2 separate regions of the Homo sapiens genome follow, and region 1 is linked to region 2. The links come from fine-mapping of genetic effects on gene expression. A gene starts in region 2. The other region holds a variant in brackets. All regions are shown on one strand. Distances are from middle to middle.

Region 1 (5,371 bases), 21 kb after region 2:
GACTTTGGGCAGTTTATTTAATCTTCCTGAATCTCAGTTTCCTCAATTGGAAAGTGAGCCTCACAGTGTTTGTTTTACAGGGTGCATTGTATCATCAATCATGAATGTGAAGTACTCAGCACGGTGCATAAAAGATGCTTCACAAATGTCTGTTCTCTCTTCAAGTAAGTGTGTCTCCTTCAACCGATAATTCAGATTCTTTTCGATTTGGGCTCAGAGAACTACCTCCTGCCGTCTTTTTCTTACTAGCAACTTCCCGCCTCTCTTGCTTGTGGGCCTGATTGATGACTGCCTCACCTCCCTCTCTCTCTCCCCTCTTGCTTCATTTCTAGGGGTACCCTGACTTAACAATTTTGGCCACAAACAGACTGCCTATCTTTGCTTTGAACTTCCCTGACTCTACTTGTATAAACTTAATTCCTGGGGAAAAAGGGTCCTACCCACAGAGGCCGTATTTCTGCCTCACTGAACCATTCCAATGGTTGAAGGACCAGCTTCCTTGAGAGTCCACTTCATGGGAGAATCATGACCCGTGATAATAATAGGCCTGGCCAGAATAATCCTTCCAGTGCGAGGTAGGCCAACCTCCTGGCCCAGAAATCAGGCTTAATTGGAAATTAAATTGCTTTCCCATGCCAACTGCAAGACGCCTATATCTACAGCTAATTTATCAAGGTGATGCCTTATCTCAAGGAAGCCCATGGGAATAGAGTGGCTGCATCAGCAAAAGTGCAAACTTGGTCCTGATGAGAAGAGTTTTCTTTAAAGTACAGCTTGAACCCTTTGAGATTCTCATTTGGGGTTCAGTGCATTTAATGGCTTCTTCCCCCTTGCCAGGCTCTGTGCCAGGGCCTGGAGGTATGGATACCAGCGGGGCAGGCACCGCATTGGAGCAGCTTCCAGGGCTAGTGGCAGAAAAAGAACCGTGCAAGAAAAGTTTCCAAAGCTGTAGCACTTTACTTAGTTGTCCAGGGATGAGCAGCTTATGGAGGTAGAGAATATCATGAATAGAGTCACGGTTAATAAATTGATTTCTATATTTAGCACTGATACTAACAGTTCATGATCAAGGGTGTGTGGCACTCTTCGCCAAGCCCTTTACACACATACATTCCATTCTCTGGGCAACTGTAGGAAACAAATACACCAGGATTTTCATTATCCCCATTTTACTGATGAAGAATCTGAGTCTTAGAAAGTAAGTACCTTGCCTAATGTTACTACTTCCCAACTAATAGGCAGTGGGACTGGAACTTGAAATAAGGTAATTTCATGCAGAATTTATGCCCTTAAATACTATACTACACTGCTCCTTTATTTCCCCAGCTTTTTATTTTGAAAATATCCAACTACAATGCAAATTGTAAGCATGCCTCCCCTTCATCTAGGTTCACCAATGATGATCAGTATTTTATCATATTTGGATTTTCTCTCTGTCTCTGTCTCTCTCTGTGCACATGCGAATTTGTGTTTCTGAACCATTTGAGAGTTAGGCTGAGGAGCACAGAACAGAAGGCTGGTTTGGAAACATGTGGGGACCAGTTTGGCTGGAGGAGAATGCGTGTGTGGGTTTGGTCACGGGGACACAGGACTAGGGAGTGGGCTGAGGTCTGAGACTGTGGGGTTAGGGCTGGGAGTGCCAAATCTGGTAGTTCGGGGTGTATTGCCACATGGCATGAACAGCCAGTGATATGCCAGTGAAAGCAGAACTTTCATGCGTTCCCATACTGAGAACTGTATGATTGAAGATGTGTATTTAGTGAATGATATGTTTGTGGTTTCTGATTAAATATGGATGCTTATTGAAGACAATTCAGAAAATGCAGAGAAGCATCAAGAAGAACTTTAGGCCGGGCACGGTGGCTCACAACAGTAATGCCAGCACTTTGGGAGGCTGAGGCGGGCGGATCACAAGGTCAGGAGATGGAGACCATCCTGGAAAACATTGTGAAACCCTGTCTCTACTAAAAATACAAAAATTAGCTGGCTGTGGTGGCCGGCACCTGTAGTCCCAGCTTCTTGGGAGGCTGAGGCACAAGAATCACTTGAACCCAGGAAGCAGAGGTTGCAGTGAGCTGAGATTGCGCCACTGCACTCCAGCCTGGTGACAGAGTGAGACTCTGTCTCAATAAAACAAACAAACAAACAAACAAACAAACAAAAACTTTAAAAACTCACCTTTAATCCAAGCTAAAACCTAAACTAATGTTTCAGTGTATTTCTTCTCTATTTTACTTTTCCATACACATCTATTCCCACAGACTGGAACTGCATTCATCATACAGTTTTTTTTCTCCTGGCTTCCTACTTGATACGATATCAATAGCATTTCTCTAGGTTATTAATTAGTTCCTAAAATAATTTTTCAACAGTTTAATATTGTTCCATCAGACAGATGAACCAAAATTTATTTAATACACAATTTTTTCCATTGACACTTAGATTGCCTCCAGTTTTTCACTGTTATAAATAATGCAATAATACCATAATGAATACCTCTAAATAAAAGTCCGTATGCACAGCTGTGATGATTTGCTTAGAATAGATTTCTAGAAGTAGGGCTTCTGGGTCAATG[G/C]GTTAGATGGGCCATCTCTTTGGAATGGTGTGGAGGAGTCAGAAAGGGAAGAAATGGGAAGAAACGCAGTCTGCAGGCTGCTGCAGCAAAGCGGGTGAGAGGTTAGAAAGGTTCAGATTTCAGGAACGGTTCTGAGAGTGGAAAGGGAGTGACAGATGGAAAGAACAAGGCTCGAGACTGGGACATGTAAAGAGAAAGAGTAAAATCAGGAGAGAGAGGTCTCCTTTGGTTTTACAAGGATTGAGTAGGGGCTATAGAAAGACATTCAACTGGAAGGGTCTAGTGGTCCTTCCTCCCATCCTCCATCAATCCATCCATTTGTTAGGCCCCTACTCTATGCCAGGTCTTGTGCTGGGTGCTGCACATTCTTTCTTTCTTTCTTTCTTTCCTTTCTTTCCTTTCTTTCTTTCTTTCCTTTCTTTCTTTCTTTCTTTCTTTCTTTCTTTCTTTCTTTCTTTCTTTCTTTCTTTCTTTCTTTCTTTCTTTTTCTTTCCTTCTTTCCTTCTTTCTTCTTTTTTTTTGAGACGGAGTTTTGCTCTTGTTGCCCAGGCCGGAGTGCAGTGGTGTGATTGTGGCTCACTGCAACCTCCACATTCTGGTTCAAGCGATTCTCCTGCCTCAGCCTCCCAAGTAGCTGGGATTACAGGCATGTGCCACCATGCCCAGCTAATTTTGTATTTTTAGTAGAGACAGGGTTTCGCTGTGGTCAGAATGGTCTCGAGCTCCTGACCTCAAGGGATCCACCTGCCTCAGCCTCCCAAAGTGTTGGGATTACAGGCGTGAGCCACCGTGCCAGACTGCACGTTCTTAAATAACTAAAATGTAGCCCCTGCCCTTCCAACAAGTTCACAGTCCAGCCAAGGAGTCACCTGCAGGCCTGGAGCTTAAGAAAAGAGCCAAGGCAAGAGAGAGAGACTTGGGAGTCTCCCCCAGAGGTGAGGCCATGAAGGGGAGAGTGCAGAGATGAAGGGAGGAGGCGAGGGGTCTTGCTTGGGCTTAGTCTATGAGTCATCGGCTGTGTGGCAATGAAGAGCCATCTGCTGGGTGGCCACCACTTCCAGGAGGGGCCAGGCTACCCTCCATCCCTGTGCCCCCAGCTACCAGCCAGAGGAGGCTCCGTTTTGAGGGTAGCTTACTCAAGGGTGTTCCTTGCTCTGGCCTCAGTTTCCCCACCCTTACACTGAGGACATTTGGAGGAGTCTCACGCTGGTCACTGTGCCATGTGGCCTTGACTTCCAGTCACATACTGGCCACCTTCAGGCTCTCAGAAGCTCCCTTGGCCAGACTGAAATTTCCAGATATAATGAACATGGGGGAGCCTGTGCCTGATGTCTTTTTACCTCATGTGCCCTGTGAGACAGGCCAGCAGGCACAGCAGATGCTCAAAGGTAGTGCCAGAGCTTGCTTGTCCATGGGGCTTTGTGGTTCCAGCCAGCTTCTCCCTTCCAGGGTGGTGTCCTCAGGGGGCTCTGACCCAGGGTGCAGTGACTGCCACGACATCCAGGTCTGAGGCCTCCTCCACCTCCTCTGTTGAGCCCCCGGTGGACTCTATACAAAGACAAGGTTTTACTGCCCCTTCTTATTTTTTCATCCGTAGGAGAGTGTGGGCTGGGAGTGGGGCAGGAGTGTACAGGAGATTTTAAAGGTTCTGGACATGAAGAGCTTGCTCAATGAATACAGTGTGAGCTCTCCTGTCTCATCTCCCTAGAATAAAACTCTTTGTCACTGATACTCGCATCCCGGGTAGGGAAAGGAAAGGCAAAGAGTATGTTGAAAACATCTCTCACTCTTTTCTGGCCCACGTGGGTGATTTCAGTCACTCAGCCGTTTCCCAAGACATGGGAGGTCCCTGGTTTGCCTAGGATGCAATGAGGGAGATTTAAGCTCAGCCCTGATAAACAGCAAAGCCAAATAAAAGCAAAACCACCCATCATTTGTTGAATCCTTAATTTGACACAAGCCCTACACTAAACACTTTTAAGTGCGTTACTTTAATAAACCTGTGGTATTGGCATTATTGCACACATTTTACAGAAAAGGAGGCTAGGCTCGAAGGAGTGACTCCCTTGGACTTCCCAAGGTCACACAATTTGGTGGTAATGGATTCAGCATCCAGTGAACTCCAAAATCATGTTTCCAGAAAGTCCTGGATCCTCAAGGGCTGGAGGGGAACACAGCCATGGAAGCCAGCTGCGTCTGCAGCCCCCAGATGCCTTCGCTGGTGACTGCTCACTTCATGCCCTCCCAGAGGAGCCCCTTGGCTGAATGGAGCAGAGCACACTGGAAACCATCGCCATCCTTTCCCAGCGGCAGGTTCCCCTCTCTCCATGGCAAGAACAAATCAAAGATGAACCAAATGGCCCGCCAGCTCCAGAACTGAGGAGGGCTGTTCTTAGGATGGTAGCCTGAGAAGCCAGATGACTATCTTAATTAACCCCTCATGTCCTGGATGCAGGAACATGGGCGGCCTTGCTAAGGAGGAAGTGTGGATGGACAGACGGACGTGGAAATGGTGGATACAGAACTGGAACCTTTAAAGGGCATGCAGTGCCGAGCCTGTAGGGAATGGAAAGAGGAGGAAGCCCAGATTCAAGGCCAGCTCTGCGTCTGGCTTGCTGGGTGGCCTTCCCCAGGCCTCAGGTTCCTCATCTGCCAGCTCAACCTCTCAACTCCCAATGAGGGCCTACCATGTGGTAGGCCCTGCACCAGGTGCTGGGGAAGTAGTCAAGGCCAGGCAAAATTCCCTGCCCTCACAGAGCTCGACTCTTAGTGGATGAGCTGGATCATAAACAAATG
Region 2 (5,371 bases):
CAGTTACTCCCTCTATCAAATGGGTAGAAAAATCTCCACCTCAGTGGTCTATTGTGAGCCTATTGTGCTAGTACCTTAAGAAGCTGTTGGAAGAGTCAGAGAAGATATTTTGTGATCTCTGACACCCCGTACTAATGCAAACCGTCAATATTTATTGTTGCAGCATTGTTATTTTCTTGCCCTCCACCTGTAGCCATCTGTCACACACAACCCCGCAGCCAGCAAAGGACCTGGGTTTTCACCCACAAACCCTCGAGGACAGGGCTTGTCAATGCCTTTTGGTTGTGGCTCATTTAGGGGGAGCAGAAGACCCCACGGCCCCCCTTCCCTGTTTGTTCCCACCTTCCCTTGGGAAGAATGCTAAAGTTTGTTTATGATTTCCAAATAATATGTAGCCCTTAATAACTTATTCAGAGTATCACGAGCAAGGAGCCCTTCGGTTATACTCATAAATGGCAGCCTGTTGCACTGTGTATCTCTCCCCCAGGGAAGCAGGAGGGGGGCCTGGCATTTCTGGATTAGCCCCAGGAGGACTTTTCCTGCTTCTGAGTGGACAGAGGATCATCCTTGGAAAATTGCTCTTCTGAGATTGAATTCCAGATCCTACATCCCTCTGTCAATCTGCCTGCAAGGTCTGAAGCTGGTCTTAGACCCTCTGGTGCTATGGTGCCCATTAAACAGACACTGTAGTCTCCTGTTAATAAGATTCAATTAGGAAAGGGGTGGAGAAGGGCACTCACCGCCTGAGAGTGTGTCAGGGAGGCCTGAGTGGCTGCCTTCATTTCGCGCCTGCTGGAGGCAGGAGGGAGGAAGGTGGTGAGCTCGCTCAGCAGGGAAGGCCAGGCTGCACCCACCTCCCTGGGGGCTGGGGAAACTCAGGGTGACCTCCAGAGCCTCAGGTGGCAGCTTACTGTATGATCGAGGTGATTTTTAATGTCTCAGAGCAGCCCCAGGGTCATCAGAGACAGACCAAGCTGTGCCATCTGGAAGGGCCAGCTTCGAATCTAGTTCTGGCCCCTAGGGTTGCACCAGTGACTTCAAGCCTCCAAGTCTCAGTTTCAGGTTCTTTGATTCTTGGGTCAAGTGAAGGGTGGAGATAAGCTGCCTTCTACCACCACGCCTGATACTTAGGAAAGCCCCAATATCTGGGATTGTTTTTGTTGTTTTGTTGAAAATATATATATATATATATATATTTGTTTTTTTTTTTTGAGACGGGGTCTCGCTCTGTTCAGGCTAGAGTGCAGTGGCACAATCTTGACTCACTGCAACCTCCGCCTCCCAGGTTCAAGCGATTCTCCTGCCTCAGCCTCCCAAGTAGCTGGGACCACAGGCATGCACCACTATGCCCGACTAATTTTTGTATTTTTAGTAGAGATGGGGTTTCGCCATGTTGCCCAGGATGGTCTCAAACTCCTGGGCTTGAGCAATCCATCTACCTTGGCATCCCAAAGTGCTGGGATTATGGGCGTGGGCCACTGTGCCTGCCCTTTGTTGCTGATTTTTAATCCTTACTTCCACTTTACAGATGAAGAAGCAGAGATCTAAAAGCATGTTTTTTGCCTGCAAATGCTGACATTCACTTGTCTTATTGCTAGGAAGAAATCTCTGTACTTTCGCGGTCTCTGGGAGGGCCCCTGGTGAGCAGACTGTCCCTGGACCTGGTTGGAAGCAGTTGTGGAGCTCTCACTACTCCCAGCTTCAGCTCAGTTGGTCCTTAAAAAGTCAGTTCTCTCCCCTTGCCATAAATCCCCACCGTCTCTAACTCCCATCACTACCCTAAAGCAAAGTAGGTTTTAAAAATGCCAGTAACACAAGTGAGAAAACTGAGGTCATTTAACGATAAGTTTGGGAGTAAAACCAAAAACAAAAAAGGAAACTGAGGCCCAGAGAGGTGCCATAACTTGCTCAGGGTCACACAGCACGTAAGTGCCAAAGGCAGGGAGCTGTAGCTGCTCCAGCGTGGATATGCCAGGGACTAGTGACAAGCCCAACCCCTCCAGCCCAACTCCACCCTTCCTCATGCCAACAAAAGGAGAATCATTTCCTATTTCTGGCATCTTTGCCAGCCCACAGAGACAGAGAGAAGAAGAAATATTTCCAAATATACCAGGCTGATCTTTCGTAGTTTCTCAGTCTTGCTGTCTGTTGTTGTTTGAAATCTGTTTCCCACGAGACTCTGGGAAGATGGAGGTGCAGGGCTTGGGTAACAGCTGCCTTCCTCAGGGCTGGGTACCTGCTCTCCGAGTCTGTGTCTCCAGGCTGTGTGCTCAGACTTGACCATGTTTGGGCATGGAGGCTTGCCCCAGATGGGGACCAAAAGCTGCTTCCCTGGAGACGGGCGGGGAGGCCAAACTTCCTGCTGAAGCTCTGTGGCCTCTTTTGGGGTGGGGGCGGGGGTCCAGGCAGAAAGAAACTGTCTGCTGCTCAAGACCCACAGGACGCCGGGAAGACTGTGAGTACCGGGCCTGAAAGCACTTGGGAAGTGATTTCTCTGAAGACCGGGCTGGAGGGAGACAGGGGAAAGCAGCCTGCCACGGGGCAGGGAGGGAGGCAGGCAGGAGGACTCCCTTCCTCTCGGGGCTGTCCTTCTGGATGGAGGGCCCGTGGTCTGGTGGCCAGTGGGGAGGGTGGCACAGTGGCCAGGTTACTCTGGTAGTAAGCGCCCTGGCCCTCTAGGTCCCAGTTCTCAGAGTGGCCAGAAGGCTGCAGCCTGGAGATTAACACCAATGCTGGCACTTGTCACCGGTAGAGAGGTGGGACAAAAATAGATTCATCAAGAGGGGTCCAGACTTCTGCTCCAAACTTTCAGGGTTTCCTTCGTTAGTAGTAATAGCTAATATTTACTGGGGGCTGATTTGGGGCTAGGTGCTATGATACATGTCTGATACTCAATATGGCATTTGATCTTTAGCTGAACTCTCTGAGGCAGGTACCATGGTTCTCGTTTCACAGTCATGTGGTTGCTAAGTGTAAGTGGCAGAGCCAGGATTTGATTCCATGTCTGAGGACCTCAGAATCGCCCTGTCCACACCCCACCAAACTGTTCAACAATGTACTCTATTCCTTGTCCTTCTAAGGAAAAGGATGTCGACCCAGCTATCAGGTCACCCAGGACACTCCAAAGTCCTGCCTTCCTTTGTCCTTCTCCATCTTCTCTGAATCTATCCCAGATCTCAAGTGACCTTTCTAAATGGGAAGATATATCCTGGAACTTCAGAGATATTTAGAAATGCTCAAAACTGGGAAGTTCTTCTTACAGTCTAACTGAAATCCCTCCTATGATAGCTGAAACCCACTTCTTCCTTTTCTTTCTGTCCCTTGGGGGATATTGACAGTTCCCATCCTTCCTCCCGCCAAAGGTTCTCCCTTTGGATGCTGAATACTAACTTCTTGCTGAAGTCATATCTACACTGAACCCCACGCATGGTCTTAGGAGGATTTATCATGACTCTATAAACTCACTCAGTGCAGGCAACAATCTCATCAGACCATTAGAGACGGGTCAGACCTGAATAAGCCAAGTTTCCAGACTTCTCTGTGACAGGGAAGCCTCTCCTTTCCTTTCCTTCTGAGCTCCTAAAACTGGTAAAACCAGGTTCCTGCCTTCACCAGCCTCAGGAGTGCCCAGGGGCCTGAGAGGGCACTAGAAGCCAAATAGCAGAGGAGGCCATGGCCCTGGGCGCTGGGGGGGGCTGATTAGCCAGGAAGGAGCCACAGGAAGCCCCCACAGGTGCGATCCAGTTCCCCCAGGAGAGAAATGGCTTTGTTGTGGGCACTCAGCCCTAGGCTTCCAAGATGGGATTTCCCATTGGCTTCAAATGATTTATGTCTCACAGTATCTGGGGTGGGGCCAAGTGCCAGTGACCCTTGCAGGTCCTGGGGAAGCAGGCTGTTGGGGCTTTTAGCTTACCTCCAGGTGATTCTGTTGCTTTACCTGTGAATACATGGAGAGTCTTGTTCAACTGACGCCAGGTAGAAAAAGGCATGGGCTCTCCCATTCCCACAAGATCACAGAACAGGAGGAAAAGGATTGAATAAAAAGAGTTGAATAAAACATCTCTCTTTGTCGGGGGCAATTTCTGCTTGCTTGTGCTTTTATAATGTCTCCATTAGAATGCAGGAGAAACTCACCTCCTGGTGCCAAATAAAGGAGAAAAAGTTGTCATTGGATGTCACCTCTGCCGATCGATAGGGGAGGTGGACCAGCTCACTGGGAAGGTGTGATGGGTATCCGTGGTGCCTGACCCTGGTCTCTTCCCTTTAGCGGAGATGCCCGGGTATGAGGGCAGCCTGGCTAAGGGGAGGGAGTCAAGAATCTCTGAATATTTGAAACAGTCTAGTAGTTAAGAGACGCCTGAGCAGAAAATAGAGCACTTTGCAGAAAATCTCTTTGGACTAAGGCCTGTCACCCGGACACTGGCTAATTAAACAAACAAAAACCATAATATGTTTATTACTTTAGGGACCTGGCAAGGAGAATAAAGTCCCCCTGATATCTGGCTAAAATTTCCCCTAAATTCCCCTAAAATTTCCCCTAAAATGGAGGATTACATTGATAGCTTCCTGGTATTTTTGGTAGAAATGGACTCTGGTTACTTTAAACAAATAAAAACAACAGCAAATAAATTTACCAGAGGCTCTAGGACAGCTTGCGGAACCATGGGAAATCACGCGGGGACCATGGCTGGGCATCTCTGTGGCTCCAGGCGGCATAGATTGAGGGGCTGTTTCTTGAAGTCTTTGTCAAGACTCACACTCCTGGGGGAGCGATCAGGAGCCTAGCAGGGGAGGGTGGAATCTTTGCTTGCATTGGGGTGGAGTCAATGTCCAGGGGAAAAACAAGGAGTTGCTGCCTAAAGAAAGAGGAGAGAAGGAAAGCAACCACCAGCAGAATGTGCCCATTCTGCTTTGTCCCAGGTGGCTTCAAGCCCTGAAATAAGAAAGCAGTCGCTGAGGCCACCATGATGCCTTCTTTCTTCTTTCTTTGCTTGAAGTAGGGGAATGTTCCTTACAAAAAAAAAAAACACCGGAATATGGTAAACCTCCTGCCTCTCCTGACAACCTGCAGCTGCCTTCTGGGGCCCTCCTCTCCTTTCCCTGCCTGTGCCCGGCCCAGCTAGCCCTGCCACAGAACTGTTTCTGGGCAGAAATACTCCAAGTATCCCTGTGAGATAAGTGCCGTGGAAGGAGGTGCATGGATGATGCACATGTACTGCTCGCTCACCGCATGGGACCTATGACTGTTGTAGCAAATGATCATAAACCTGACGGCCTCAAACGACAGAAATTTCACCAGAAGTCCAAAATCACCAAGGTGTCTGCAGGCTGCACTCCCTGCAGTGGCCGTGGGGGATGAGCCATTGTTCCT

What was found. PIP is the estimated chance that this variant, and not a neighbour inherited with it, causes the effect. A credible set is the group of variants that fine-mapping cannot tell apart.
Region 1: its variant is the best candidate, but not a certain one, in a credible set for the expression of KCNMB1 in whole blood (TOPMed, PIP 0.50).

Annotation. Positions count from the first base shown.
Region 1 is chr5:170,365,040-170,370,410 of GRCh38, reverse strand. It overlaps a transcript of KCNIP1 not described here. Among named protein-coding and RNA genes, the nearest start is that of KCNMB1, 22 kb to the left of the region's middle. The variant G/C (reference allele first, on the strand shown) is at 2,576.
Region 2 is chr5:170,386,343-170,391,713 of GRCh38, reverse strand. It overlaps KCNMB1 (potassium calcium-activated channel subfamily M regulatory beta subunit 1), which reads left to right and starts at 2,347. Exons shown (of 4, transcript NM_004137.4): 1 at 2,347-2,455. It overlaps KCNIP1-OT1 (KCNIP1 overlapping transcript 1), which reads right to left and starts at 2,221. Exons shown (of 3, transcript NR_109899.1): 1 at 2,111-2,221. It also overlaps a transcript of KCNIP1 not described here. RefSeq lists enhancers at 1-52, 305-805, 806-1,306, 3,231-3,731, 3,732-4,232.